Linked DNA regions of Homo sapiens. The protein of the gene in region 4 purifies or fractionates together with the protein of the main gene of each other region. This does not show direct contact. Each region holds a gene or a part of one and is shown on either strand. Other genes may lie near its edges. The genes, in order: THSD4, ECI2, KAT14, KANSL1, DUS2, YEATS2 and ZNF609.

Region 1 (4,129 bases), on a different chromosome or scaffold from region 4:
AAGAAAGAAAAAGGCAAATTATATCCAAGTTTTATATATATGTGTATACACACACACACACACACACACACACACACACACACACACATATATACATATATATGACTAACTTCTTAATTGCATCTCTTAAAACCCCCATCGTTAACAGAGTCCCAAGTGTTGCCAAGATTAATTGAGAAAGACCTAAATGCAAAATAAACACTGTGGCGTGGTTTAATTCCATATCAGCTAAGAATGAAGGTGCAATTAGTAATAAAGATGTTAATAATTAGTTGTGGTCTATTAAATTTTATGTTCAGTAATTATGTGGAGAGTGAAGAAAGAATTTTCTCATGAGGGCAGAAATCAATGTTTCACCTTGATTGCTATTTTAATGTGCTTATTTTAATGGGGCCATCCTGTAGAAACCCTTGGGCACATTTCCAATTTTACGTAAATGTAGAATTAATTATTATGGAAGCATATAATTTTAGAGTTGGAGCGACCTTGGCGGTCATTTAATCCAGCTCAGTCATCTTAAAAGTAAGTAAGAGTTAGTTGACTTACTTAAGTCCTTCCACAGAGATTTGGAACCTGCGCTCCTCAACTCTAATGCCAGTGAAGGCGAAACCTTTTCTGATCCCTTCAGACAGAAGTGCTTTTTCTTGCCTCAGAATTTCCCAAAGCAACATTTATTGTATGGCCTCTAAGGCCCTTACCCCGCCCTGCATTGTGATCTAGTTGCTTTCAGTTGTAAGGTTGGGGTCTTGAAAACTATGGATGATTAATTTTTGTATTTCTTCATCATTGCTAACTCTGTGTTTTGCAAAGAGTAGTTGCACAATAAATATTCATGCAGTGGTGTTCTGGAGCTGGTTTTTACCTGCTCACCAGAGCTCACTGTGTCTTCACATTGGTAGCTTGATATCAGCCATGATGGAAGTATTTACACCATAGGAGTGGGCAAATGCTACAAATCAGGGCTTCTACCCTGTCCTGCCCACGTCCCCCGCCCCACCCCACCTCAGGGCAGTGGGTCTTTACAAAAATCTAAAGATCTAAACCAGGCTTGTCCAACCCATGGCCCATGGGCGTCATGTGGCCCAGGATGGCTTTGAATGCAGCCCAACACAAATTCGTAAACTTTCTTAAAACATTATGAGATTTTTTTTTGCAATATATTTTTTTAGCTCATCAACTGTCATTAGTGTTACTGTATTTTATGTGTGACCCAAGACAATTCTTCTAAACCAATGTGAAGATGGCCATTTACCCATTGCTTTGCCTGGGCTACTTCAAGAGTGGTGAAGGAGCCAAGTATTTAACGCCCTTGAATATTTTCAGGATTAAAGTCAGTGCAAGTGAGGCCTTGGGACTGCACTAGAATTTGGTTGCTTATCTAAGTTCCATTACGTAGAAAAGCTCTTTGAGTATGAATAGTGAAGGAAACAGGGTCTGAAATATCACAGTTAGTTGAAGGAGCAAAAAATACATGATTAGAAAAAAAAAGTGAACAGGAAAGTTTCCTGTGGCTGAAATTGCAATCATATGTTTGTACTTCTCTGAAAACCTTCAGTGGCTCCCAGTGACCTACAAAAATGCCCAGACTCTTTGCATAAAAATTACACGCTGACCATAGTTTACTGTTCTAATCTCATTTCCAACCACTTGCATCATCCACTGTTCATCCTCTGTTGATTCCCTCTTTCATTCTACTTTCCAACTTCTGTGGAGCCTCTGTTCCAGCCTCCATGATGGTGCCTTCTAAAATGCGTTCCCCCTGCTTCCCAGTTCTACCATAGACCCTTTCCCAAGCTTCCGTTCCTACCTGGTCCTCTCTACCACGGACCAGAGCTTCTGAGTTAACATGAAATTCATCCGACTCTGATCATCTCCTCTCTTGTCTATCTCTCTTTAGGAGCAGGACCCGTGGTACCATTGGCCCTGGCAAGTATGGCTATGGTAAGGCCCCATATATCTTACCACTGCAGACAGACACTGCACACACGCCACAGAGGCTCCGGAGACAGAAGCTCTCATCCCGCCATTCCAGGTCCCAGGGAGCATCTTCTGCTAGGCATGGCTACAGTTCACCAGCCCACCAGGTCCCCCAACATGGGCCTTTGTACCAAAGTGACAGTGGCCCTCGCTCTGGACTGCAGGCTGCGGAGGCCCCCATCTACCAGCTACCTTTGACCCATGATCAAGGCTACCCTGCAGCTTCAAGTCTCTTTCACAGCCCAGAAACAAGCAACAACCACGGTGTGGGGACCCATGGGGCAACTCAGAGCTTCTCTCAGCCTGCCCGATCTACAGCAATCTCATGCATCGGGGCCTATCGGCAGTACAAGCTGTGCAACACCAACGTGAGTACACACAACCCATACCGGGCCTGGAAACAGCTGCCCCTCGTTTTTCTGTCATTTGGCACTAAGCATGATGAAGACAGCAAGGATATGGTGTCTGGGCCATGTTAACACACCTTTTAATCTTCCTCCTTTCTCTTTGCTTTCCATGTATTCTCCCTACATAGTTTTCTTTTTTTTTTTTTAAAGTTATTGCTTTAGTAACTTATACATTGCTTCTTGAATTGCTTATTGACAATCGCTTAATGGTGGTATTAATTATTAACAGCTATTGCTGCAAAACAACCTCCAAATTCTCAGTGACTTATATTAACAATATTTATTCTTTGCTCAAGTGCAATATATAAGTTTCCCAGAGGTTCTCTGCTATTCCAGGTGTAAACACTAGGTATTGTAGCATGAAGAAGTCTGAGAGTGAAGTTGTGAAGAGTCTTCTCTTAGGGGAAGAGCTGGGACAGCTAAGGTGATAGATGGCACACAGAGGCCTCTGGGCAGCAGTAAGTTCCTAACTGGTGTGGAAGTATGTTGTTATTTTAAGGACCTGTATAGCTGTACTCATGCATATATATACAGGTATACCCACTTTGGATATCAGTTCAATAAATATTTATTGATTTTATCTTCATGCATTTACATAATATCTACCATTATTAAAAACTCATAAGCCAGGCCTTGTGCTCAGCACTTTTTTTTTTTTTTTTTTTTTGAGATGGAGTCTCGCTCTGTCACCCAGGCTGGAGCACAGTGGCGCGATCTTGTCTCACTGCAACCTCTGCCTCCCAGGTTCAAGCAATTTTCCTGCCTCAGCCTCCCGAGTAGCTGGGACTACAGGTGCGCACCACTATACCCAGCTAATTTTTCTGTTTTTTTAGTAGAGACGGGGTTTCACTATGTTGGCCAGGATGGTTTCGATCTCTTGACCTTGTGATCTGCCTGCCTCTGCCTCCCAAAGTGCTGGGATTACAAGTGTGAGCCACCGCACCTGGCCTGTGCTCAGCACTTTTTCTACTAACTCCATTTCATCTCCTTAACCATGAGTTTGCTCTTCTCTTCATTTTATAGTTGCAAAGAGAGGTAAAATAACTTGCTGAAGATGCCACAGCTAGTGAGTAGTAGAACCAACTATCAATGTTAATTGTATATGGTGACCAAAGGAATTTTTTAAAATATCAGTTTAAAGACTGCGTATTAAAGAGAAGTGAATGAGAGGATGTTAAGAGGTTAAATTTCTGAGCCAGTATATTTTTCATTAATAATTTAATCTGCCTTAATACTCTGTTGCTGGGTAACAGGACAGCTGTTCTATATTAGCTTCAATTTCCTCATTAAAAATATATTTCCTGCTATAGAGTCCATAGAAATGACTTAATTTGTGATCTTAATAATTTCATTGAATGCCTGGGTTGCTTTTTAGCTTATTCTTCCACTGTCAGACTTCAGGAATCATTAATTTTAAAAAGCAGTAATTTTTCTAAGGCCATTGCTGATCAGTCAACCAGTAAGTCTTCATTGAGCATCATTGCTTGTCTTGTAACAGAGTAGGTGTCACGGAGAATAACAGAAAAGTCGTGGTATCTACCTCCTAGCATTGCTTTGAGGATCAAATGAGGGATGGTAGGAAAGTGCTTTGTAAATCAAAAAGTAAAGAATTGTTTGGTTTCATGGTCAGACATGCCCTTGTTCCTGAATATCTGTTGCTGTTCTTTTAAAACGAAATGAATTCATTTGTAATATACAACATATTCTCCCATTGAGTAGTGTATCTCTTAATTTTGAAGACCAAG
Region 2 (4,129 bases), on a different chromosome or scaffold from region 4:
CTAAAAATACAAAAATTAGCCAGGTGTGGTGGCAGGCGCCTGTAGTCCCAGCTACTTGGTAGGCTGAGGCAAGAGTAAGGCTGGGCAACAGAGTGAGACCCTGTCTATAAAAACAAACATTCTCCTCCAATGTGGCAAAAATAAGTTTTACAATCTAGGCTGGGCATGGTGGCTCATGCCTGTAATCTTAGCACTTTGGGAGGCCAAGGCAGGTGGATCACTTGAGGTCAGGAATTCGAGACCAGCCTGGCCAACATGGTGAAGCCCCGTCTCTACTAAAAATACAAAAATGAGCTGGGTGTGGTGGTGCACGCCTATAATCCCAACTGCTCGGGAGGCTGAGGCAGGAGAATCGCTTGAACCCGGGAGGCGGAGGTTGCAGCGAGTTGAGATTGCGCCACTGCACTCAAGGCTGGGCAACCGAGCAAGACTCCGTCTCAAAAAAAAAAAAAAGCAAAGAAGGATTGGTTCCCATTTTACAAATGAGAAAACTGTGGTACAGAGAGGGTAAGAAACTTTCCCAACGTCCCTAAGTAGTCTGACGCCAGAGCCTAAACCCTTAACTCCACCTGCTGCTCTCTTTCTGAAAATCAGCATTTTAAATGCTGCTTACTGGCAACTTTGCATGTACCTGTTTGTGTCCCTTTAGCTGTTGTTGGCAGGTTTCTCAGTTTCCTGCTTGTATTCCTTAGGCTGTGTCTTCTGGGTACATTTTTTTGAATAAGTTTTCTTTTGGATAAAAAAAGAAGATACATGACATTAACAGAAACTTTTAAAAATATTGTGATTATTTTTATGTATATGCTGCATATGTTATAGATTTATATCTTCTAACAGTTATATAGTAAAAACAACAGCGTGTCTGATTATAGGAAATGAAATCTAAATATTCTTTTACATATTATGAATTTTAAATTAACATTCTTTCATAATTTATTCATTAAGAAACACAAAAATATGTCTTAAATGTAAAAAAAAAAAAAACTAAAAATGACTATATACTAAATAACCAATATTGAATTAATTCCAGTAGTTAAAGCCAACCAAAAAAACCACTGGGGCAAAATCAAGACAAATGACAGATTGAGGAAACAATTTTTCAACTCATGTAACAAAAGCTGATCTCTCCACGATACTTTTTAAAGTTTGTCTATAAAGCGATAGATCCACAAGCTAAAATAAAAATGGGCAATGGTGAGGAATGAATAGGTCAGACAAAATGAAATATAAAGGGCTATTAAAACCATATGAGAGAAACCACTGAGAAAATGAAAAGATAAGCCATAGACCAGGAGAAAAGATTTGCCTGACGCTCTAATAAAAGACTTGCAATCTGAATGTGTATCTTACAACTATATAATAGGAAGGTAAACAGCCTAACTTAAAAAAATAGTGGAGAAAATATCTTAACAGTTGCTTCACCAAAGAAAATATACGTATGTCTAATAAGTACATGGTAAGAGACTTAATACCATTAATGGTTAGGGACATGTAAATTAAAACCACAGTGAGACCCCACTACATACATACTAGCATGGTTAAAATGAAAAAGACTTAATAGCTAGGTTTAGTGAGGATGTGGAGCAATTGGAACTTTCATACATTGCTGGTGGGAATGTCAAATGGTACAACCACTCTAGAAAACAGTCTAGCAGCTTCTGAGCTAAATATACATTTACCACACAGACCAGCCATACCACTTAGGTATTTACCTATGATAATTTAAAAGAGATTCACCCAGTGACCTGTACACAAGTGTTCCTAACTGCCTTTTTGTTAACATTATCTGAACATTTTTATTTTTAAATTTTTTTTCAGTTTCATTGAGGTATACTTGACAAATAAGAATTGTACAGTCAGGTGCTGCATAACAACATTTTAGTCAATGGCAGACTGCATGTAAAACGCTGGTCTCCTAAGATTATAACACCATATCTTACTATACCTTTTCTTTTTTTTTTTTCACTCTGTCATCCAGGCTGGAGTACAGTGGCATGATCTCGGCTCACTGCAGCCTCCTCCTCCCGGGTTCAAGCAATTCTTGTGCCTCAGCCTCCCGAGTAGCTGGGACTCCAGGTGCACACCACCACACCAGGCTAATTTTTGTATTTTTAGTAGAGATGGGGTTTCACTACGTTGGCCAGGCTGGTCTCGAACTGCTGACCTCAGGTGATTTGCCCACCTCTGCCTCCCAAAGTGTTGGGATTACAGGCATGAGCCACCACACCCGGCCTACCTTTTCTATGTTTGATATATTTAGATACACAAATGCCATTTGTTATAACTGCCTAGAGTATTAAGTATAGTAACATGCTGTCCAAGTTGGTAGCCTGGAAGCAGTAGGGATTACCACATAGCTAGGTGTGCAGTAGGCTGTGGCATCCAAGTATATGTAAGTATACTCCATGATATTGGCACAATGACAAAATTGCCTAATTATGCATTTCTCAGAACATATCCCCATTGTTAAGCAACACACGACTAGATATATTTAAGGTGTTCAACTTGTTTTTCATAGCAGCCTTCTTCATAGTAGCCTTTCATACGTTGCTAGTGGCAGTGTCAAATGGTACAACCATTTGAATGCTAGAAACAACACCAATGGCATTAACTGGTGAATGATAAACATATTATTGTGCATCCATACAAAGGAATACTACTCAGAAATAGCGAGGAACAAACTACTAATACATACAACAGCATGGTGACTCTCAGAAGTCAGACTCAAAATGCTACAGAATGTAGGATTCCACTTATACAGCATTCTATAAAAGTCAAAACTGTAGGGACAGAAAACAGATTAGCAGTTGCTTGGGGGTGGGAGGGAGGGACTGACTACAGAAGGGCCCCCGGAACCTTTCAGGGTGGCTGAAATGTTCCGCATGTCAGTAGTGGTGGTGGCTATGTAACTCTCTATTTGTTCAAACTCATCCAACTATACACTTTTAAAGGGTGAATTGTGTGTGCATATTAACCACATAATCTTAATTTTTAAATAAATATTATTAAGTATTGTGAAGTTATAAGCAAATCGTGATTTTTAAAAATAACACATGAAGCCAGGCATGGTGGCTCACGCCTGTGATCCTAGCACTTTGGGAGGCCGAGGCAGGTGGATCACCTGAGGTAAGAAGTTTGAAACCAACCTGGCCAACAGGGCGAAACCCCGTCTCTACGAAAAATACAAAAATTAGCCAGGCATGGCAGCGCATGCCTGTAATCGTAGCTGCTGTGGAGGCTGAGGCAGGAGAATCGCTTGAACCCAAGGGGTGGAGGTTGCAGTGAGCCGAGATCGCGCCACTTCACTGCAGCCTGGGCAAAAGAGCGAAACCCTTTGTCTCAAAAAAAAAAAAAAAAATCACACATGAAAAGATGGTTTTCTTTTCTCTCCTGCCTCTGCAGGCAACATTTCATACACCATTTAGTCACCTAGGCCAAAGTCCGGAAGGATGCTCCTCTTACACTTTTCCGAAGATAATGAGCCCAGCCAAGGTAACTTTTGGAATGTTTAAATATAAAATTTTATGAGTCATCTCAAGAAAGAAGGAAGAGTAATCTCATATACTCTCCCTTCTTTCCCTTGGTAATATGGACAAAAGAGAAGCTAATGATTTGCTTTTCAACTCTTTAAGAGTTTTACCAATGGAGGAATCAGGCTATGGGAAGTATCTGCTATGCAGGAAAATTAGAAATTCTCTCTGCAGTTCCCAGAACTGGGATCCTCCTCTTCAGCTGGCTGCTTAGTGCTAGCTGCACTGCAAGCAGCACAGCACCTCAGCCTTGCAGCTGTGTGGCATTAGTCACTTGAAGGACCAGGGCTGTGCCAGCCTCCCTTGGTCCCCTGAGTTTGGAGGCCACTCGGTTCCTTTATGGATGACCAGTATCTCCTAAGGAGAGACATGATGACGTCTTCACTTTCAGAGTTACAGTAAGTACCAACAGATGGGAGGTTTTGTGGGGGCTCACGGCTGCCAGAGCCACCCCCAATCACAGCAGCCCTTCCATCAGCCTGCTCACGGGTGTATTCTCTCCCAGGCTGGTTAAGTGGCTGCTCAGGTCTTTCACTGTGTTTCCTAGTTGCCCACGCCCTGTGGCATGACTCGAAGGGGATTGTGACAAGACCAGAAGC
Region 3 (4,129 bases), on a different chromosome or scaffold from region 4:
AAGAGATGAAAACTCTGAAAATGAATCAAAAAGAAATGCTGGAGATAAAAAACACTGTAACCAATATAAAGGTTGCCTTTGATGATGGGCTTATTTGTAGACTGGACACGGCTGAGTAAAGAATCTCTGAACTTGAGGATCTGTCAGTAAAAACTTCCAAAACTGAAAAGCAAAGACAAAAAAGATGAAAAAAAAGAACAAAACAGACTATCCGAGAACTGCGGAAAACTACAAAAGGTGTAATAAACACACAATGGGAATACCAGAAGACAGAAAGGAATAGAAGAAAAATTTGAAGCAATAATGACTGAGAATATCCCCAATTTAATGTCAGACACCAAACCACACATTCAGGAAGGTCAGCGAACACCAAGCAGAATAAATGCCAAGAAGCATATAAAATACCTCTGACCAAAAGAACAGAGTTGTCAAGTAAGACAAATGAGAACAAACACAATTTCTGTGTTTTGGATGTGCTGGAAAATAAAATAATAGAAAAAAGAAAACAAAGCTTTAAAAAGAGAAAATAAAAGACACTTAACATGCACTAATTAAAGATAAAAAACAAAGAGAAAATTCTGAAAGTTTTAGGAGATGGGAGAATAAAACAAGGAGGCCACTTAATTGATAAGAAACAAAAAAAATTTTTTTTTTTTGAGAGAGAGTCTCACCCAATCACCCACGCTGGAGTGCAGTGGCATGATCTCAGCTCACTGTAACCTCTGCCTCTCTGGTTCAAGTGATTCTCAAGCCTCAGCCTCCCAAGCAGCTGGGATTATAGGCATGCGCCACCAGGCCTGGCTAATTTTTTTATTTTTAGTAGAGACGGGGTTTCACCATATTGTCCAGGCTGGTCTCAAATTCCTGGCCTCAAGTGATCTGCCTGCCTCGACCTCCCAAAGTGCTGGGATTACAGGCATGAGCCACTGAGCCCAGTCAAAAATTTCTATTTCTTATCAGTACCGGGGTTCTCAGGAGTGACACTGTATGTAAGATGATAATGAAGTCATAATTTCAAAATATCAATGGAAAAAACTAAAATAACAATTTTATATGACTGCTATCATTTAAATGAAAAAGTGAAATGAAGATATTCTTAGTCGTATAAGTTTTCAAAATTAACCTCAAAAAGCCCATATTTTTAAAGAACTGTTAGAGAAAGCAGTCCAGCAAGAAATTAATCTAGAAAGAAACAATAGGACGAGTGAATAATTTAGTAAAGATTTATGTCATTTAAATAAGCAATACAAAAGAAAAAAAGAGATAAGTGCATGAAAATGTACTTTTTTGTTTGGGGGGACAACCACATGATATTAAAAAAAGAATAAGGAAAAATAAATGTATCTTAAGTTAGGACCTATAAAAAGAATAAAAATAGAATGTATAACTTTCTTTATGGTACAGAATGAACATCACATAAACTATTTTCTCTGATCATAATACAACATTAGAAATCACATCAATTACCAAAACATAGCTTAAAATTCTCATATATCTGAAAACCAAAAAACAACTAAATAACCTTTGGATTAAAGAGGAAATAATGAGAAAAATAACAAAATGCCAAGTACTGATTGGAAATAAAATCACATCATTTCAAAAGTCAAGAATCACAGCTAAAGCAGCACTTATTGAGAAACTTATAGCTACGAATACATTCAAAGAATAAATATAAAACAAGAGTATGGATTGAATAAATGCATTTACAGCCACTCCCTGTGTAAATACATTAAAATTTATACTAAAATTCCAAGTTAAGACTGGGTTAAAACACAAGCATATAAAGCTTTACTACTTCCCAAAATCCCACTAAAACTATAGAAGCTGACTTAATTAGAACAGTAACTGGTAAACAGATGGACAAATAGTAACTGATTTAACACCAAAATCCCAAAGTGGCTTTGGGTAAGCTAAATGAGAACTAACCCAATCTATACTACAGAACCCGCTAAAATCCAGGCAGCAGCCAGCAGATTCCTCTGGAACTGGGACCAAATGGGACAATAAAATAAGGAGCAGGCAAACACCATGTGGAAAGCAGTATGATCCCCAGATCCTTCCACTCCCTGTTGCTGGGTGGCTGCCCTCCCCCAGAAGCCAGGAGGTCTGATCTCTAGAGAACTAACAGGGGATCCAGCTGGAGGGCTGAGGTGTGAGTACCTGACAAGCTGAATGCTAAGGTCCCTCTTCCCCAACTTGGCAACCAGCATCCTGAGCCCAGAAGATTATTCCCCAGGGACTCTGACTAGATTCAAAGAAAAAACCTAAAGGAAGTGCAGTGGTCCTCAACAGAGGTCTCACCTAGACAATGTGGCTGTGTATGGAATTCCAGGTTCAACCTCACTTAATGAGGGTCTTTTCAGTATGTTGGTCTCAAATTTTACTTCCCATGCAGCTTTTCTCAGGAAGTCATTAAGAACAAGGGAATAAACCTATAACAAGGTAAAGATGGGCCACAGGAAACAGGAGATCAAATACAGAGGAGGGCAAAAGAATCTCCAGAGAGGGGAGATCCCAACACCCCTGCTGAGTTTCACAACAAAGGGTGAACAAGTGTGACCCAAGGGGCAGACATAGTGTAGAAAGTAAAAAGTTTCCTCTTCAAAGTTTTCCTTCTTGTTAAAGAATAAATCATAAGTGTTAGAAATAACAGTTTCTTTTAAAGACTAACTTTCTTCAAGTCTCCTTGCCTTGTGCTAATAACTCTTTGTTAAGCCCTATCCTCTGTAACCGTTGGACATGCTCACAGGCACGTTCCAGCCCACAGTCTACGCCCCTTCCTTATTTGGAAATGTTATTGCTTCCTTAAACCTTTTGTAAGCAACTTCTTTGTTCTTCCCTGCACTTACCTATTTAGGAAAGTTTTAGGCTATTAGCAAATCGGGTATCAGTTTAAGATTGTGAGGTCCCGCTCCAGCCAGTGGATGCAGGACACAGCAGTAAGGACGACCCAAGTGCGTAAGGGATAAATATGTCTGCTTTTCCTGTGTTCAAGTGTGCTCTCACCTTTGTTCCATCTGCAACTGAGCACCCTTTCTACAGAAAGAAAAGATGGCCTTGCTGAGATACCTTTTGTCTCTGTGCTGACTTTTCTTCGCAGCACCGATTATCTATTTCTAACAATTTTGGTATTTCTAACACATATTGAGGCTATCATCCTTAAGTCCTTGCTGCCACTGACCATCTTTTAAACCTATGGCGTCGTGGCCCAGAATCTTATCTACGCTCAGCTTGTCTTCACCATGTACAGGTGAGCCTCCTGTACACCACCCATGCCCACCCCAAAGACCAGCTGATGATGCTCACTCCACAAATAACTGCTTTGACCTTCTGCAAGCTGGAAGGAAGCTGTCAGCTCAGGCAGGAAATACAGAGGATCCCACTTCCTCTGCCCAGATTTCTGCCGCATCTCTGGTATACATCACAGCCCTGGCTGATGCATACGCTATGGTGAGCCTCATGTTTCCCAGGACTCCCTAGTGACCTTGGCCAGTGACTACCTCAGAAGGGGTTCATGGAAGCCGAAGCCAGAACATCACTGTAAGTATTAGTTTCCCAGGGCTGTAGGAACAAAGCACCACAAACTGGGTGGCTTAAAACAACAGGAATTTATTGTCTCACAGTTCTAGAGGCCAAATGTCAGAAGTCACAGTGTGGGCAGGGCTATGCTCTCTGGGGTACGCACTAGGGGAGAATTTGTTCTGTGCCCTTCTCTTAGCTCCTGGTGCTGCCGGCAATCCTTGGTGGTCTTGGCTAATTATATTTGCAAAGGGCCTATTTCCAGATAAGGCTGCATTCATAGGTACCAGGGTTGGGACTTCAACATATGCTTAAGGGGGACACAATTCAGTCCACAACAATGACCCAGAATGACTATTTAGCTTATCTTCTCCAGGAAACTTCATCTAATAGTGGCAATTTACTTACACAGCTAGATTTATGCTTGCTACTCAGTATTTTTTTAAACGAAAAGTATATCATTTAGAGACATACACATTTAAAAAGCAAAAGAATAATTAACACTGTAAGTCAAAGTGGCTTCCTCTGAGGGGAACAGAAAGTACACAGGAGACTTCTAAGGTGTTTACAACACTCTTTATCCAGGAGATGAATACATGGGCATTTATTT
Region 4 (4,129 bases):
AGCAGTAGGGGGTGAAATCCAGATTATGGAAGAGTGAAGAGTGCAGAGACAGTTATTTATACTATTCTTAGAGAAGTTTTGGGGTAAAGGGAAAGAGAGATATTTGGGCAATTAAGTATGAGAGAGAGGCTGTACTGAGGGCAGAAGATACTTGAGTAAATTCCTAGGCTGAGAGGAAGAAGCCAGTAGAGAAGATATTGATGACCACTTTGATCTGAAAGAAAAGAAAACTGATGAAACAAGTTGGTATTACAGATGTGGTACAGTTAGCTTTGTAGTATAATCTATACTTCTAGAGAAGTGAGAAGCTGATGAAAACTGGATTCCCTGGCCAGAAAAATGCACAGACCTGTGATATTTGGCATACTTTTTTTAGTGAACACGGGAATTCCTTACTAATTTTTTTCTGTTTAATTATTGCTTAGTTTGATGTGTCTTGCTTTAAATCCATTTATTTCAACAAGCTTAAAGAGATTTTTTTTTAATGGAGATGATTTAATTTTAACAATCTGTGATTTTCTCTGAATCGAACTTGTGTTTTGGCACCTTTCAATCTGTGGTAACAAATGACAAGAAGGGTGCAATTCTTCCTTCCCTTGTGCAGGGATTTTGCCTCCCCCTTTCTCCCAGATGAAAGATATTTGGGTCTCTAGAATAACTGTGGTACAGTTAGCTCCAGAGTGTTTTCTTTCTGGAGGCAGTTTAGACAACAGCCTCAAGTAGTGCTTTTGTTAAAAATATACATGTTTTTAAAAGTGCTTGTATTTCTAATATTCTTTTCTCCTTTCTCTTCTAGTCTGTTCTCTGGGGAGGCAGTAAGGGGCCGTGGAGCTGGCCTCGGCCTCGGCATCGGGAGAGGCTGGACTTCCTGTCTCTCTGTGCTGAATGGCTGCGATGGCGCCCGCTCTCACTGACGCAGCAGCTGAAGCACACCATATCCGGTTCAAACTGGCTCCCCCATCCTCTACCTTGTCCCCTGGCAGTGCCGAAAATAACGGCAACGCCAACATCCTTATTGCTGCCAACGGAACCAAAAGAAAAGCCATTGCTGCAGAGGATCCCAGCCTAGATTTCCGAAATAATCCTACCAAGGAAGACTTGGGAAAGCTGCAACCACTGGTGGCATCTTATCTCTGCTCTGATGTAACATCTGTTCCCTCAAAGGAGTCTTTGAAGTTGCAAGGGGTCTTCAGCAAGCAGACAGTCCTTAAATCTCATCCTCTCTTATCTCAGTCCTATGAACTCCGAGCTGAGCTGTTGGGGAGACAGCCAGTTTTGGAGTTTTCCTTAGAAAATCTTAGAACCATGAATACGAGTGGTCAGACAGCTCTGCCACAAGCACCTGTAAATGGGTTGGCTAAGAAATTGACTAAAAGTTCAACACATTCTGATCATGACAATTCCACTTCCCTCAATGGGGGAAAACGGGCTCTCACTTCATCTGCTCTTCATGGGGGTGAAATGGGAGGATCTGAATCTGGGGACTTGAAGGGGGGTATGACCAATTGCACTCTTCCACATAGAAGCCTTGATGTAGAACACACAACTTTGTATAGCAATAATAGCACTGCAAACAAATCCTCTGTCAATTCCATGGAACAGCCGGCACTTCAAGGAAGCAGTAGATTATCACCTGGTACAGACTCCAGCTCTAACTTGGGGGGTGTCAAATTGGAGGGTAAAAAGTCTCCCCTGTCTTCCATTCTTTTCAGTGCTTTAGATTCTGACACAAGGATAACAGCTTTACTGCGGCGACAGGCTGACATTGAGAGCCGTGCCCGCAGATTACAAAAGCGCTTACAGGTTGTGCAAGCCAAGCAGGTTGAGAGGCATATACAACATCAGCTGGGTGGATTTTTGGAGAAGACTTTGAGCAAACTGCCAAACTTGGAATCCTTGAGACCACGGAGCCAGTTGATGCTGACTCGAAAGGCTGAAGCTGCCTTGAGAAAAGCTGCCAGTGAGACCACCACTTCAGAGGGACTTAGCAACTTTCTGAAAAGCAATTCAATTTCAGAAGAATTGGAGAGATTTACAGCTAGTGGCATAGCCAACTTGAGGTGCAGTGAACAGGCATTTGATTCAGATGTCACTGACAGTAGTTCAGGAGGGGAGTCTGATATTGAAGAGGAAGAACTGACCAGAGCTGATCCCGAGCAGCGTCATGTACCCCTGTGAGTAGACCTCATGCATGATAGCATTCTTGAGAAATGTTGGCACAAGGAAGAATGAATGAATCGCCATTATGGAGAGAATGTGATTCTTTGTACATAGGTGTCTAGGTTCTGTTTGTTTTTTCCCTGATGTTGGGTAGATGAGTGCATATACATGCTAGTGAAGAAGGGGAAGATACTTTTGCTGTAGGGTTGTATTGTTGTAGTCTAAATGGTGGTAATTTCCTTTTGAAGTCTAAGAAAAATAACTAGGAGACATCTTATGTGTAAAATTGTACTAGTACCTCTTTAAGAGTGAATTTAGATTTCTTTTGAAACTATATATAGGACATGATAAGTTAATGGCCTGATTGTTGAGATTTTGTTGTTTCCAGTAAGCAGGGACAAATGCTGAGTTGACCTAGTTACCTTTGTAGGAAATTACAGTTGCTTTTGATTGAACTTTCAGCAGAGAGCACACCCAGTCTTCAATTTTAACACTTGAGATTTTCTTACATTTTAAGGACTGACAATTAGAAAATGCTTCAGAATATTTAATACATCGCCTCCAAGCACAGTCTAGTTTCACAACCTGACTCTCTTCCTATTAAAAAAAAAAAAAAGCCCATTTTAAGCAGATTTGTTAAGCTGAGTTAAATGTATTGATGTATTTGGAATAAATTCTTACTGGGTTGTTTTTTTTGTTGTTTTTTGTTTTGTTTTGTTTTGAGACAGTTCCGCTCTGTCGCCCAGGCTGGAGTGCAGGAGTGCAGTAGTGCGATCTCAGCTCACTGAAGCCTCTGGCTCCTGGGTTCAGGTGATTCTCGGGCCTCAGCCTCCCTAAGTAGCTGGGATTACAGGTACCCGCCACCAAGTCAGGCTAATTTTTTTCTTTTTTCTTTTCTTAAGTAGAGACTGAGTTTCACCGTGTCGACCAGGCTGGCCTCAAACTCCTGACCTCGTGATCCGCCCACCTCATCTTACTGGTTTTTCTAAATCTGTTGGTTTGAGAAAATTTTACATAAGCTTTTTATGGGTGGCACTCCAAATTGGCATGGTGGAGACAGAGACGTTTCATTCCTGTCACTCCCAATTCAGCATCTATGTACTTAATTAAATAAAGCAGTACTATATTATAACATACTTAAAGATACATGTTAAATAAGTGCATTTATCTCCTTAGGAATATCAGATTTGAGAGAGAGCATGAGGAGTTGGAAAAGAGGGGCAGGATAATTGACTAGCAGATCTTTCATTTTCTCTTTGCTAGAGGCTGGCTTACTAGAGAAGGCTGAAAAAGATGAATATGTGGGAAGAATTGGTGTTTCCTTGACTGTATTAAAAGGTGATGAAGATTTTCACTGGAGTGTTTGGTTGTTGAGACAGCTATGATTTTTAAAAGTAAATTTTCTGGTTTCCCAATTTTGTTTATATTATCTGCATGGATATTGTATCTGAAATGAAACTTTTTTTTTCTATTTTGAAGGAAGAAATGGATAATTTTTGCTGAATTTCTTCCTTGTAGACCTAGTTCTATTATCATTTGTTAGTTCACTGTGCTCAAGTCCACTTCTGTATTTAGATTTAAAGCAAATGCTTCAGAGGCTTGCTTCTTCCGTAACCCATCTTTCTTTAAATGGATTAGTAGCTTAATTCAGCTTGCTAATATTCATGGCATTATCCCCACTAACTTTGCTGTTTAAATCACCGCTTTAAAAATATCTTGGTTAACGTTAAATATTTTGTGCTTAGAGGTATAATAAACACTGTAGTTAAAGGATTTTAAATTGCATGCACTTATTTTGAGTAACAGAAAAGCACCTAGACACTATAAGCGTATTGTTTTCAGGATACGTTGCATTGAAAACATTTCTGAGTTTTGGTACTGTTGTAGGTAAGCGTTACAAACCAATGAAATAAAAGTACCTGAGAATTTTTCTTATTCTGTAGGATAGTTTAATGACTTGGAAAAACCT
Region 5 (4,129 bases), on a different chromosome or scaffold from region 4:
TAATCCCAGCACTTTGGGAGGCTGAGGTGGTCAGATCACCTGAGGTCAGGAGTTTGAGACCAGCCTAACCAACATGGTGAAACCTTGTCTCTACTAAAATTACAAGCAATTAGCTGGGCGTGGTGGTGTGTGCCTGTAATCCCAGCTACTTGGGAGGCTAAGGCAGGAGAATCGCTTGAACCTGGGAGACGGAGGTTGCAGTGAGCAAGATCATGCCACTGCACTGCAGCCTGGGTGACAAGAGCGAAAATCTGTCTCAAAAAAAAAAAAAAAAAAAAAGTGGATGCAGTGTAAATGTTCCCATTGTCGTATCAGAAGAGATCAGACTATGGTAGCCCAGAGAAGGGAGTGGAAAGGCAGCCTTTAAACTTGGAATTTGATAGGGAAATATTGTCCTTGGGCTGAGATTTAGGACCCTGTAAGCAGAGGGTGTGGTATAAGCAGGGGCCTGGGGATGAATATGAGGTAGACACAGGGAGGCCTGAGTAGCCCGATTTGACCAGAGGTTTGTCGAGTGGGAGATGATGAAGAAGAAGCAGACTGCAGGATCGAAAACCTTGGTTGGTAAAAGATCAGCTGGACTTGGACTTTAGGTATCTTTGGGCTTTTTTTTTTTTTTGAGATGGAGTCTCACTCTTGTCGTGCAGGCTGGAGTGTAGCAGTGCAATCTCGGCTGACTGCAACCTCCGTCTCCTGGGTTCAAGCGATTCTCCTGCCTCAGCCTCCTGAGTAGCTGGGACTACAGGTGCCCGCCACCACACCCAACTAATTTTTTTTGTATTTTTAGTAGAGACGGGGTTTTGCCATGTTAGCCAGGCTGGTCTTGAACGCCTGACCTCGTGATCCACCTGCCTCGGCCTCCCAAAGTGCAGGGATTACAGGTGTGAGCCACTGTGCCCGGTGGTTTTGCTGTTTTCTGATTACTTCTTTGTGTTCCTAAATTATGTGAGGAGCAGAGTTAAAATGATCTGGAGGCAGGGTAAGGTGGTATATACCATTTATATAAGGAGGATAGGGAATGATTATATATATTTATTTGTTTATTCAGGGAAGATTTTTGGAGAGACACAGAAGAAACTAGTAACATTGATTTCCTCTGGGGAAGGAAACTTAAGTTTTTATCTGGTTATGCATAGGTAGTAAATTCCCATTACAGGGGTGCTACTGAAAATAATTAACTGGCACAGCACTGGCACTGATCAGTCAGAAGAGACACCAATCAATATGCCACACATGTACATACTAGCTGAATATCTGCTGTGTTCTCATGGTTCAAAAATTGAAGCCAGATAAAAAGCATAGATTGAGGCTGGGCTTGGTGGCCGATGCCTGTAATCCCAGCACTTTGGGAGGCTGAGGCGGGCAGATCACCTGAGGTCAGGAGTTCAAGACCAGTCTGGCCAAAAGAATGAAACCGCATGTCTACCAAAAAATATAAAAATTAGCCAGGTATGGTGGCAGACACCTGTAGTCCCAGCTACTTGGGAGGCTGAGGCAGGAGAATTGCATGAACCCCAGAGGCAGAGGTCGCAGTGAGCCAAGATCACGCCACTGCAGTCCACCCTGGGCCACAGAGTGAGACCCTATATGAGAAACAAAAGAAAAAAAAAAGTATAGATTGAAACATTTCCCATTCCTTAGGCAGGGAGACTTCTTACTCGTTACCCATTTGAATCTCTCAAATTTTGAATGTTTTACCTATTCAAAAAAGCAAGTAAGTTTAATAGAAACGAAGGAAGGAAGGAAATTCCATTGTTGAGAAAGCTATTATTGTGGAAGGGGCAGTGAAACTGAATTTTAGATCCTGTGATTCTATAAGGAAGGGCTGGATACGTGTGAGTGGAAGGACAGATGGAGCCAGGGGGAGTGCTGGGGCTTCCTCAAGGCCTTCAAGGTTTCTTTTATGACCAATGTAGTCCAGGCTTGGTGGATTTTCCAGTCTACCCATTCTTCTTTAAAATCCAGGCTCAGCCTGGCCGAGTCTGTGGTGGTTTAATGTTCTCTCTGATTCCAATTTATCATCCTTAAACATGAAATTAAAGTGTAATAACTGAACTTACACCTTCTGAGCACATTCTGTGAGCATTCATTAGTATGTAATCTTTATACTGGCAGCATATATTTATTGGAATTGTTTTTTTTGCCTTCATCTCACTCTTAATGGATTCAGATTTTTAAAGATCCCCCTCCTCCATTATTAAAGTAATTAATACCATTGTCTAGAAGTTGGAAAATATAGACAAGTACAGAAAAGAGCAGGAAAATCACCAGTAACTCACAATAAAAAGCAACCACCATTACTATTATCAAGATTCAAGTGGTTGTGTGGGTTGGTAGTTTCCATTTCCTGGGGCTTTGGTTAGAGTTGGGCATGGGTCTGGGCTGGGACATTGTTGCTGGCAGAAGAGAAGGGCCTAGACAAGGTTTGTAAGTTGTGTGCACCTTAGTAGCTTTGCTGGTGGTGTTGATGCCTATGCAAGCATTGAGTATGATAGGAAGAAGGCACATTTGATCTTATTTCAAATGAAGGATGATTCATTGTTTTTTAAGGGCTTGGGAGATGGTGGGATTTAGTTTATTAAGACACTGAGACCTGGGTTAGGGAGTGGGCAGTCTTGAAAAATAAGTTTTATATAGCCCACTCTAGATAGATTTGTGGGATTTACCAAGGGGATCAGAATGATGACTTTTTTGTTTGTTTGTTTGTTTGAGATGGAGTCTTGCCCTGTCAACCAGGCTAGGGTACAGTGGTGCAATCTCGGCTCACTGCAACCTCCACCTCCTGGGTTCAAGCAATTCTTCTGCCTCAGCCTCCTGAATAGCTGGGACTACAGGCACACACCTCCATGCTCGGCTAATTTTTGTATTTTTGGTAGAGACTGGATTTCACCATGTTAGCCAGGCTGGTCTCGAACTCCTGACCTCAGGTAATCCACCTGACTCAGCTTCCCAAAGTGCTGGAATTACAGGCGTGAGCCACCACGCCCAGCCTATACATTTTAAAAGTCATCACTCTGGTCTGGCCAGCCTGGCCAACATGGTGAAACCCTGTCTCTACTAAAAATATATTAAAAAATTAGCTAGGTGTGGTTGTGCATGCCTGCAATCCTGGCTACTCAGGATGCAGAGGAAGGAGAATCACTTGAACTGGGGAGGTGGAGGTTGCAGTGAGCCGAGATTGCGCCACTGCACTCCAGCCTGGGTGACAGAGCGAGAATCTGTCTCAAAAAAAAAAGAAAAAAAATTATCACACTTCAGTCCCAGATGTTATGGGCACAGATACTGCTGCCCTCCTACTTGTTTAAAAGAAGTGCCGGTTGCCAGTGGGCCTTGGTCCCTTGGAAGTGAGTGCCGGGGTGACGCTCAGTTGCCAGACCCCATCCCATGGAGAGGGCCATAGTGTCTCCCAGATGTAAGAAGACCTTTTGTGTGTTTCTCCTTAGGGAGGAATGGGAGCTGCCCTGCTGTCAGACCCTGACAAGATTGAGAAGGTAAGTCCTCCACGAGTGAAAGCAGGGGTCCTCAAACACAGCTCCAAACTAGAATTGTCTAGAACGCCTCCTTCCACCAATACCAGATTTACTGATGTCCACCCAGTTTCTCTCCCTGAGGCCTAGCGATTTCCAAAAAATTTTCCAGTGATTTTGACATGCAGCTAAGTTTGGGAACCCCCGAGCCAGCCTACAGCAGCCTTGATGTTCCTAAAAAGCCCAGAGCAAGAGACATGTCAATGAAGAGCCAGGGGTCCTGAGGACTCACAGAGAACCTCCTCTGTATTTCCTGTCTCCCTTCTGGGAAGGTCTTGAGAGCAGAGGCCAGCCCACCTGTGGTGAGGACGGGCTCAGTGGCCATATGTGTTTGTATGTGTGTGGGTGGATTGGCCTCTCCCAGGGGGCTTGATGAGAGGAGCAGTGGGTCCCCTATGTCCTGAAAGAGTCTACCCCAGCCCTTGGAGAGAAGCCCGGGCCAGGGTCAGAGGAGGCAAGCTGAAGTTAGTCTCTCTCTGTTCCCCTTTCTTTGGTGATTCTGTAGGCTAGCTTAATGAGGCCCTGGGGACAGGTTTGTGTTCCTCTCCCAGTCTGCCAGCTCTTTCCTTTTAGCTCCTTTGTTTTCCTTTTCATTCTCTATC
Region 6 (4,129 bases), on a different chromosome or scaffold from region 4:
GATCTGAGCCTGCTCTCGCTCCTGCCAAAACCTTGGCTGAGACAATGAACATTTATGAAGGCAAGCCTAGGCACACCCCTCTCAGCCATCAGACTCTTTGACTCTCCATTATGACTCTCAGCAAAGTCTGGTCCCCAGAAAGTTACATACTTGGACTGTATCATAATGCCTTTGAAGAACCAAAGCTTTCAAAATCTTTCAGCTCTTACGTTTCTGGATTTTTCACTATTTCTGAGCCATATGCTAGCAGATGGTCACAGCATAAGGACCGTGTCACAGGAGTGACTTGTTTCAGTCCTCAACACAGTCCAATTTTACCCTGCCAGATAACCCGGTATGTTTCTTTGTTAGACACGAGGAGCTGATTCTCTCTCTGCCTTGGCTTTAAGGAAGCTCTGAGCTCATTTATGCAGTTTTCTTTTGCCCCAAGCTGTCAGGAATAATTATGTCCATTTCCAAATTTTTTTTAGACTTTTATGTAACTGTAATCCTTTATCTTATACGGTTGCAACATTTTTTTTTTTTTGGCAAGAAGTAGAGGAATTAATTTAAACATATCAATAAGACTCTACACCATCACCTCATCCCAGTGCAGGGAGAACCCTGCCTGAGTACCATGCTTCAAACTCAGAAACACCCACCACAAATACCAAAAGATTTATTGTAGACAATTTTGTTACACAATTATACACATTATGATACACGTTTGAAACATTAACACACGTGGAGACTGCTAAATCATTTAATATTTCTTTTGCAAAAAGATAATTTCTTTAGGCTGTGATACCTGCAATAACCAATCTGTTCTCATTTGGATCAGATCTTTCTCCCTCTGTCCTGGAGATCTCACAGTTCACTTTGCTGAAGCAATCTATCCACTTCCCTATCGACCTTGCTTATAGCAGTTCAGGTATAGACTATTTGAGCCTTATATACTAAACTGTTAAGCCAGTGCGTGCCCTATGCCCTGCTGAGAATAGATTCCTTCTGTACTTGCAGCCCTCAGATGCTGAATTGATCAATCAATTTTTGAGACGGGGTCTCCTCTGTCACCAGGGCTGGAGTGCAGTGGTATGATCTTGGCACACTGCAACCTCCGCCTCCTGGGTTCAAGTGATTCTTCCTGCCTCAGCCTCCCGAGTAGCTGGAATTACAGGCACACACCACCATGCCCAGCTAATTTTCTGTATTTTTAGTAGAGACGGGGTTTCACCATGTTGGTCGGGCTGGTCTCGAACTCCCAACCTCAGGTGACCCACCCACCTCGACCTCCCAGAGTGCTGGGATTACAGGCGTGAGCCACCATGCCCGGCCCAGATGCTCAATTTAAAAGGCAGAGTTTATTCAGTCACTCCCCGCCTTACCTTCCTGACTCAAACATCTACAGGACCCATGAAAACAGGAATTACGTTGCTTGGGTAAGTTTCTCTGACTCTGACTCACAGGTTTCCGATTTTCCTGGAGCAGAATAGAACAGATTTCTGACTGGGCATGCATTCTTTGTTCTGCCTTCCACACAGGCTGTGTTAGGAAGTCTGAGATGGGGCGCCTCCAATAGACCCGGGCACCTGGCAGCGCCACCTTCTCCTGCCTGCCACTCCCTCCCATCGAGGGGGCCTCTGCTTGTGGACACAGACTAATCTCACTGCTTCTGGGCACTGGCATCCTTATTTCTGGGCATGGGCAGTTACTTCTCCAACTTTAAGGCACTCACTGGTATTTCTTTTAAATACTTTTCTTCTTGGGAAAAACTCCTTAACAGAGAAGAGTATATACAATCCACGGATAGGACAGACGACCCCAGAAGAGCCTGCCGGGCGCCGCTCCCCACTGGCCACTCAGCATGGGGTCAGCAGCAGAAGCTCCTGCAGGCCATGCAGATGGCGTGGAACCTGCGATCTGCTTCGCACACATGTGTAACGCTGCTACACTTCTGCCAAGTGTCTGGGACTGGTGCACACAGTCTATTCCTAGCATAGTGAGTTTTCTTGGTTATAATCAAACCTCTTCCTGACTCCTGTTGGGACCTCTCCGTCCCTTGCCACTGCTTTGACAATGGTTCTAGTAATGCTCTCGTGCTCAAAAAAGGAATTCTGCTCAGTCTGCCGTCTCTCAGGCCTTCATGGTTCTTGGCTCTAGGTATGGCCTCTTCCTATAGCTGACTCACTTGGGCTCAGAGTACAGCCCCTCCACACCAAGGCCAGGCATGGGAGAGAACCACCTGCTGAAGGCTGAAGCCCAATCTCTCTTCAGGGTAACTGCTGGAGCTACTGGTAACTCCAGCCCACAAAATGGGTGAAATCTCTAGCCTGCCACTCATTTTCTACCTCCTGGGGAGGCGGGCCCAAGGAGCCCCCTTAAGCACACCCAGGGAGAAGGGCCTGAGGCACACGGCCTGGCCCGCTCTCGTGGGGCCTTTACAAAGACTGCAGAAACGCTGGCCGACAAAGCACGGATCCACTGACAGCCTCACTCCACACTCAGGAAACAAACTCCTGTCCTAGGAGGATTTCATCTGGAGTGCAGCGTGCTGGTGACACGTGGGAACAGGCAGCGGCAAAGGTTGGGTAGCCATGACATGCCGAGTCACACTGGAAACCACCTCCTTCCCGAGCAGCAGGGTCCTCAGTTACAGCTTCGCTGTGCCTTCAAAGCCTGCTTCTCCAGGGCACCTCACTCCGCTCACTGGTCCTCATTCAATATTCCCATGTGTTTGTTTGTGAGGAAGTCCAGAAAAGGAATGTTGCAAATGGCCTGGTGAATATTACTCACTGTAATTTCTTTGGGAATCCTGGTCCAAAAAACAAAGGGTGTTACCAGGTGAAATTCTCTCACGTATATCTCATCATTTATTCACTTAACTCATCACAGGGACCATCCCAGGCAGAGGCCCCGTGGAGAGGGCTCCTGAGCCACAGACATAGCTTAGGGCCACTCTGGGGTGAGGACTGCCTTCCTGTCATAGGCATGAGAAGGATGTCAACAAGTTGGTTGAATAATTAGGAAAAAAGATTCTGAGAACTGAGAAAAGAGAAAGAAAACAAAGCGGATGGCAGAACGGAATGACACATTTGTGAGTGAGTCTCAGCAGACCGAAAGCTGAGTCAAAGCACCACAAAACTCTGGGACCTTATTTCCCATCTCCTAGAAAGACGGGAGACGGAGCCACGCCAGGCCAGGCGTGATGTTAATCGTTCCATCAAAAGCACCTAAGTCACTCTACCCCTCCAGGACAGGGAGCACAGAGGTAAGCAGGGGCCACAGGAGGCCCTGGCTCACTTGTGGGTCCAAGCAGGACAGTGGGCAGCAGGACCGGAACTCTTGGTTCCCCTTCCTTTTCTCTAAAGACGCCTATGTTGTCTGATATATTCCTGTGAAGTTTCATCTACTATTCCTCTGATTTAGGCCCTTCATGTCCTCAGGCACTTTGCTACAATTTTATAAATCTGTGACAGCCTTTAGCATAATGCAATAAAATAATATTTGTTTCCTCCGAAAGAAAAGCAGATGTGGCCTATCTACCATCCTTTCAGGGCCTAGGAACAGACTGAAACTCAGTGTCTTAATCAAAGACAACGAGTCAGCAAAGAGCAGTGGCGAGCCCAGGGGCCTCAGAGCCAATGAGACCTGAGTCGGAAGTCCAGGTCTACACTGTATTTGCTGGGTAAGCTGGGTAAAATTACCTTTCAAAGCCCGGTTTCCTGATTTTTAAAAAGAGAATAATAGTTCTGCAATGAAAAACAAATTAGGTAATATATGCAACGCTTGGCCCTCGTGTCTGACATGTAATGGACACTGTTATCTTTAATTGCAAAGCTAATATTTATTCAACCCTGTAATAAAACAGAGTCCTAGGTGTCTGTGAAGTAATGAGGAGGATATAAACCTCTGAGCAAAGCTGAGTGAGCTTTCACAACCATGAGGTTCTCTAAAAATGACAAAGCAGACCCTTGAGCTCATCTGGCTCTAAGAGTGTCCTAAGCACTCACTCCATCTCCTACTGGATTGATGTAAGTATAAAACACCTTCATGGGCAATTCAACTGTTAGGAAAGAGGTGTAAGCCTCACACCACAGACTGCAGAGATAGTAATACCTGTTGTGAGAAGCTGTCTGGTATCCAACTGCCA
Region 7 (4,129 bases), on a different chromosome or scaffold from region 4:
TTATTATTATTATTTTTTTGAGACGGAGTCTCACTCTGTTGCCCAGGCTGGAGTGCACTAGTGCGATCACAGCTCACTACTGCAGCCTCAACCTCCCAGGCTCAAGCCAGGAGGCCTGGCTAGAGTTTACGCTTTTAGCCACTAAATTATACATAAGAGTTGATGTGAAATTCAAGTTTAGAAGGCTGGTGTTTTAAATGAGAAGTGGCCCCGAATACTTACCTTGAAAGGAAAATTCTCAAACTTTGATGTATATAGCAATTATCTGGAGAGACTTCTGGAAGTACAGATTTCTGGGCCCTTACCCCAAAAACTTATTCGGCATATCTAGGGTAGGGTCCAAGAATGTGCATTTTTGATACTCTGGTGATGTACATGGTTTTATGGGACACACTTTTAGGAACTCTGCTGTAGACGGTAAACTGTAAGCTCCTCAAAAAGCAGAGACCATCTCTGTTTTATTTACCAGTGTATACCCAATACCAAGTAGAAAACCTAGTATCTAAAATGCATTCAATTAATGTACTGACTGAATGAAAAGTGATAACAATTAGCCAACAGTATATCTTCTCTACAAAATACTTAGTAATATCCACAATACATTTGAAGGTCTGCCTATTAGTGATGTGTCCAAGGAAGAAGCACTAGAACAGGGTTTTTTTTCTTACCTGCAATTGCCAAGTAAAGAAAGAACTATTCCTCAATTATTATAATGAAAATTTGGCTGGATGAAATATTCCAGAACACACACACATATATCATAAGTAGTCAAGCTCAAAGTAGCAGTTTTAAAGTAACTTTCCTTCTTTATAAATAACAGGATAGGTTCAGTGCCAGCTGTAATGGTTATTCTTTGCAAACATCATTCATTACCTTACCTAAAATCCTAAACTCAAAGATCCTTTGTTTATTGAGTGTCTACAATGTTAAAGTCACTGTGAAAAACAAGTGAAAGCAGTTTTGGGGTAAAAGCAATTTTGGAGTATGTAAGCATTTTCATCTAATGTTTCAAGGTAGTCTTTACATTGAAAAAATGGCTGGGTGTGGTGGCACACACTTGTAGTCCCAGCTACTTGCGAGGCCAAGGCAGAAGTGCATAAGTGAGACCAAGGCAGAAGTGCATAAGTGAGGCCAAGGCAGAAGTGCATAAGCCCAGGAGTTCAAGATCAGCATTGGCAACATAGCGAGACCCTGCCTTAAAAATAAGCAAATAGGCTGGGTGTGGTGGCTCATGCCTGTAATCTCAGCACTCTGGGAGGCCGAAGCAGGTGGATCACTTGAAGTCAGGAATTTGAGACCAGCCTGGCCAACATGGTGAACCCCTATCCCTACTAAAATTAAAAAAAAAAAAAAAAAACTAGCCAGGCATGGTGGTATGCACTTGTAATCCCAGCTACTCGGGGAGCTAAGGCAGGAGAATCGCTTGAATCAGAGGCAGAGGCTGCAATGAGCCGAGATCGTGCCACTGCACTCCAGCCTGGGTGACAGAGTGAGTCTCCATCTCGAAAATAATAATACTAAGAAAATAACAAATAAAGTGGGAAAATTGAGAATCCTTCCTGACAGTTAAAGATTTGTTAAGAATCCCAGAGTAACAACATGCCATAAGAATTTGGTGTCTACAAATCTGGCTTTGCCAGTGACTACCTGTGAGATGCTGGGCAAGTCACAGGACTTCACTGGTCTTAGTTTCTTCTATAAAATGAGGAAATTGGACAAGATAATCTTTCTCTGGAACTGCCTTGAATTACAACACCTAGAAGGAAAACAGAGTTTCTGAATGAAAAAATAAATTAAGCTTGTAGTTACAGAATGCAACTCTGTCCCACATAAATATCAACTTCTTTTTAATGTTTTCCATGAAGGAAAATCTTGAGGGCATTTGGTTTCAGGAAGCAAAGCTGACTGCTCTGCCATCAATAGCTGAGAAATAACAGCTAGTGGAAGAAGGCGTTAAGAAAGCCTTGGATCAGAAGGAATAAAAGAGACCTGACCTTGGTTAGGCAATGAGGGACTACAATACAAGAGAACTAAGCTAGAAGGCACAAATTAGGGCAGGAATACAAAACCAATGGCAAAGGAAGATGCTCTTAAGAACACAGGATATGATAGCATGCATGATCAGAAGTTGAAAGAGCAAAGAGCACACTTTATGGTTTTCTTTGTATCCTAAACTAATGGGGGAAGTGGTAAATATATGCAGCATTCTGAAAGCAGCAGAAGCTGACATTCAAACACGGGAAAAGCAAAGTGCAGTGTTCCTACCTTGCAAGATCAAAAGCAGCAGCTAAAGACATGTGAGGGGGAGCTTCTGGTTAGAAACTTCTAGATCCTTTCTTTAACTACTAGAGCCTACTTGGCTATTTTATATGATTTGGGGGAAAAGAAGGAGTCTCACCTTAAACTCCTGGTCGTAAGCCCTGACAAAGTCAGCACAGATAGATCGTTGCCATCTGTGGTTTGTAAATTCCTTTTTTCTTGCCTGTCAGAGTGGCGACATAAGCACTAAGCTCAGGACACTCAGACAGGCGCCTGCCCTCCTCCCTACCTCCCCTTCCATCCCTAACTTAACAATCCATCAATCAAACTAAAGGCAAGGGAACAGGCAAGAGCTGGAAGGCTCTGTCTTGTTTATTCCTCAACATTCCCTCCCCCATCTCTTCAGCTGGCAGGAAGTATGAGGCAGAAGTGTTCAATAACAATTCAGAGCAGCAGCAGTTGCTAAGAGCCATCTCTGGTCTCTCCTAGAACTCTGGGAAACAGCACAGAGCTCACTCTGTCAGAGGAAGGTATGGTCGAGCAAAAGTGGGATCCCATGAAGGGAAATCCACATCCTTGTCTGACAGAAAATTTCCCAGGCCATAGCCTGAGATATCTACCTTCACAAAGAAGAACATGAGATAGATAATTTCTCTCTTTCTTTTTTTTTTTTTTTGAGACAAGGTCTGGCTCTATTGCCTAGGCTGGAGTCCAGTGGTGCCGTCTCAGCTCAATGCAACCTCCACCTCGCAGGCTCAAGCTATCCTTCCACCTCAGCCTCCCCAGTAGCTGGGATTACGGGTGCACACCACCAATGCCCGGCTAATTTTTGTAGAGACAGGGTTTCACCATGTTGCCTAGGCTGGTCTCAAACTCCTGAGCTTAAGCAATCTGCCCACCTAGGCCTCCCAAAGTGCTGGGATTACAGGCATGAATCACCAGGCCCAGCCAGTAATTTCAATATTCAAATCTTCCTCATTGGCTAGTAGTCAACACTGCTACTCTGCACCACAGAATTCAGTCAAGAAACTTCCCAAATTTTATGAGTTCTTCCTCTTCATGACAGTTCCCAGTTGAGAGGATGCAATTCTTAGATTATATCAAAACATCTGTTTTGCTATTTTGGTTCTGTTTGTTATCCCTACATAGAAACGTCCCAAACCACAGGCAAGCCCATTTCTCAGAGAGAAAATTTTAAAGAAGTTTTCAAAGACTTTGCTTATAAATTATAGTACTAATCATCAAATACTCACTGAGCACCTATTATGCCCCAAACCGGAGATTGTTGTTTCTCAAAAACCGCTCCTCTGCATGGTTCCTAACTTCCTTTCCTTTAACTTGCCTCTTCTGCTCCTCCCAGTCCAGAAATGTTCTCTCCCTGCACAGCATGTTTTAATCTCCTAGCAACTTCCAAACATTTATTTAAATAATTATTTATTTCAATAGCCAAAGGTAATATGGAAAGGCACCCTCAGGACCAGACTGTCCAAAAGGGTTGAGGGAACAGGGGAAGGAATTGAGAAAGCAGGTTCTTGCTTATGGTTACATGAAACTGTATAGCAAATTTTCTGCTTCTAAAAGTAATTGCCAGCAATTTTCTCTATCTTTCAAAAACTGAAGCACAGTCTCTTTCCCTTTTCTTTCTCATTCTGCTGCCCCATTCTCAGAGTCTCCCTGGGAGGCAAAGCTTATATGGCAAAGCAACATTATTAAGGGACAAAACTCCCTGGCACCAGGATGTATTCTTAGCTGAACATACTGCATCTTTCAGCCCAATTATAATCTGAAGGGCAGCCACCCAATCAGTCCCTGCACCTCTATGTGAGAAAATGGGTTCCATTTGCTTCTCTGTTAGAGACAATCATGGACA

The links.
Region 1: the proteins of KANSL1 (region 4) and THSD4 purify together in Homo sapiens (affinity purification with mass spectrometry; one large-scale study listed by BioGRID and IntAct). This does not show direct contact.
Region 2: the proteins of KANSL1 (region 4) and ECI2 purify together in Homo sapiens (affinity purification with mass spectrometry; 2 studies listed by BioGRID and IntAct, with this or other methods). This does not show direct contact.
Region 3: the proteins of KANSL1 (region 4) and KAT14 purify together in Homo sapiens (affinity purification with mass spectrometry, with the first as the bait; one large-scale study listed by BioGRID). This does not show direct contact.
Region 5: the proteins of KANSL1 (region 4) and DUS2 purify together in Homo sapiens (affinity purification with mass spectrometry; 2 studies listed by BioGRID and IntAct, with this or other methods). This does not show direct contact.
Region 6: the proteins of KANSL1 (region 4) and YEATS2 purify together in Homo sapiens (affinity purification with mass spectrometry, with the first as the bait; one large-scale study listed by BioGRID). This does not show direct contact.
Region 7: the proteins of KANSL1 (region 4) and ZNF609 purify together in Homo sapiens (affinity purification with mass spectrometry, with the first as the bait; one large-scale study listed by BioGRID). This does not show direct contact.

What each region holds. Positions count from the first base shown.
Region 1 is NC_000015.10:71,240,752-71,244,880, forward strand, and holds part of THSD4 (thrombospondin type-1 domain-containing protein 4 isoform 1 precursor), read left to right. Parts: intron 1-1,897; coding exon 1,898-2,345; intron 2,346-4,129. UniProt on the Homo sapiens protein: Promotes FBN1 matrix assembly.
Region 2 is NC_000006.12:4,118,549-4,122,677, reverse strand, and holds part of ECI2 (enoyl-CoA delta isomerase 2), read left to right. Parts: intron 1-631; exon of another isoform or gene 632-729; intron 730-3,402; coding exon 3,403-3,492; intron 3,493-4,129. UniProt on the Homo sapiens protein: Able to isomerize both 3-cis and 3-trans double bonds into the 2-trans form in a range of enoyl-CoA species. Has a preference for 3-trans substrates.
Region 3 is NC_000020.11:18,165,055-18,169,183, reverse strand, and holds part of KAT14 (cysteine-rich protein 2-binding protein), read right to left. Parts: intron 1-4,129. UniProt on the Homo sapiens protein: Component of the ATAC complex, a complex with histone acetyltransferase activity on histones H3 and H4. May function as a scaffold for the ATAC complex to promote ATAC complex stability. Has also weak histone acetyltransferase activity toward histone H4.
Region 4 is NC_000017.11:46,168,900-46,173,028, reverse strand, and holds part of KANSL1 (KAT8 regulatory NSL complex subunit 1), read left to right. Parts: intron 1-796; 5' UTR 797-885; coding exon 886-2,174; intron 2,175-4,129. UniProt on the Homo sapiens protein: Non-catalytic component of the NSL histone acetyltransferase complex, a multiprotein complex that mediates histone H4 acetylation at 'Lys-5'- and 'Lys-8' (H4K5ac and H4K8ac) at transcription start sites and promotes transcription initiation.
Region 5 is NC_000016.10:68,057,623-68,061,751, forward strand, and holds part of DUS2 (tRNA-dihydrouridine(20) synthase [NAD(P)+]-like), read left to right. Parts: intron 1-3,443; coding exon 3,444-3,491; intron 3,492-4,129. UniProt on the Homo sapiens protein: Catalyzes the NADPH-dependent synthesis of dihydrouridine, a modified base found in the D-loop of most tRNAs. Specifically modifies U20 in cytoplasmic tRNAs. Activity depends on the presence of guanosine at position 19 in the tRNA substrate.
Region 6 is NC_000003.12:183,809,137-183,813,265, reverse strand, and holds the end of YEATS2 (YEATS domain-containing protein 2), read right to left. Parts: coding exon 4,096-4,129; intron 3,248-4,095; exon of another isoform or gene 2,815-3,247; intron 2,792-2,814; coding exon 2,683-2,791; 3' UTR 642-2,682; downstream 1-641. UniProt on the Homo sapiens protein: Chromatin reader component of the ATAC complex, a complex with histone acetyltransferase activity on histones H3 and H4. YEATS2 specifically recognizes and binds histone H3 crotonylated at 'Lys-27' (H3K27cr).
Region 7 is NC_000015.10:64,501,865-64,505,993, reverse strand, and holds part of ZNF609 (zinc finger protein 609), read right to left. Parts: intron 1-4,129. UniProt on the Homo sapiens protein: Transcription factor, which activates RAG1, and possibly RAG2, transcription. Through the regulation of RAG1/2 expression, may regulate thymocyte maturation.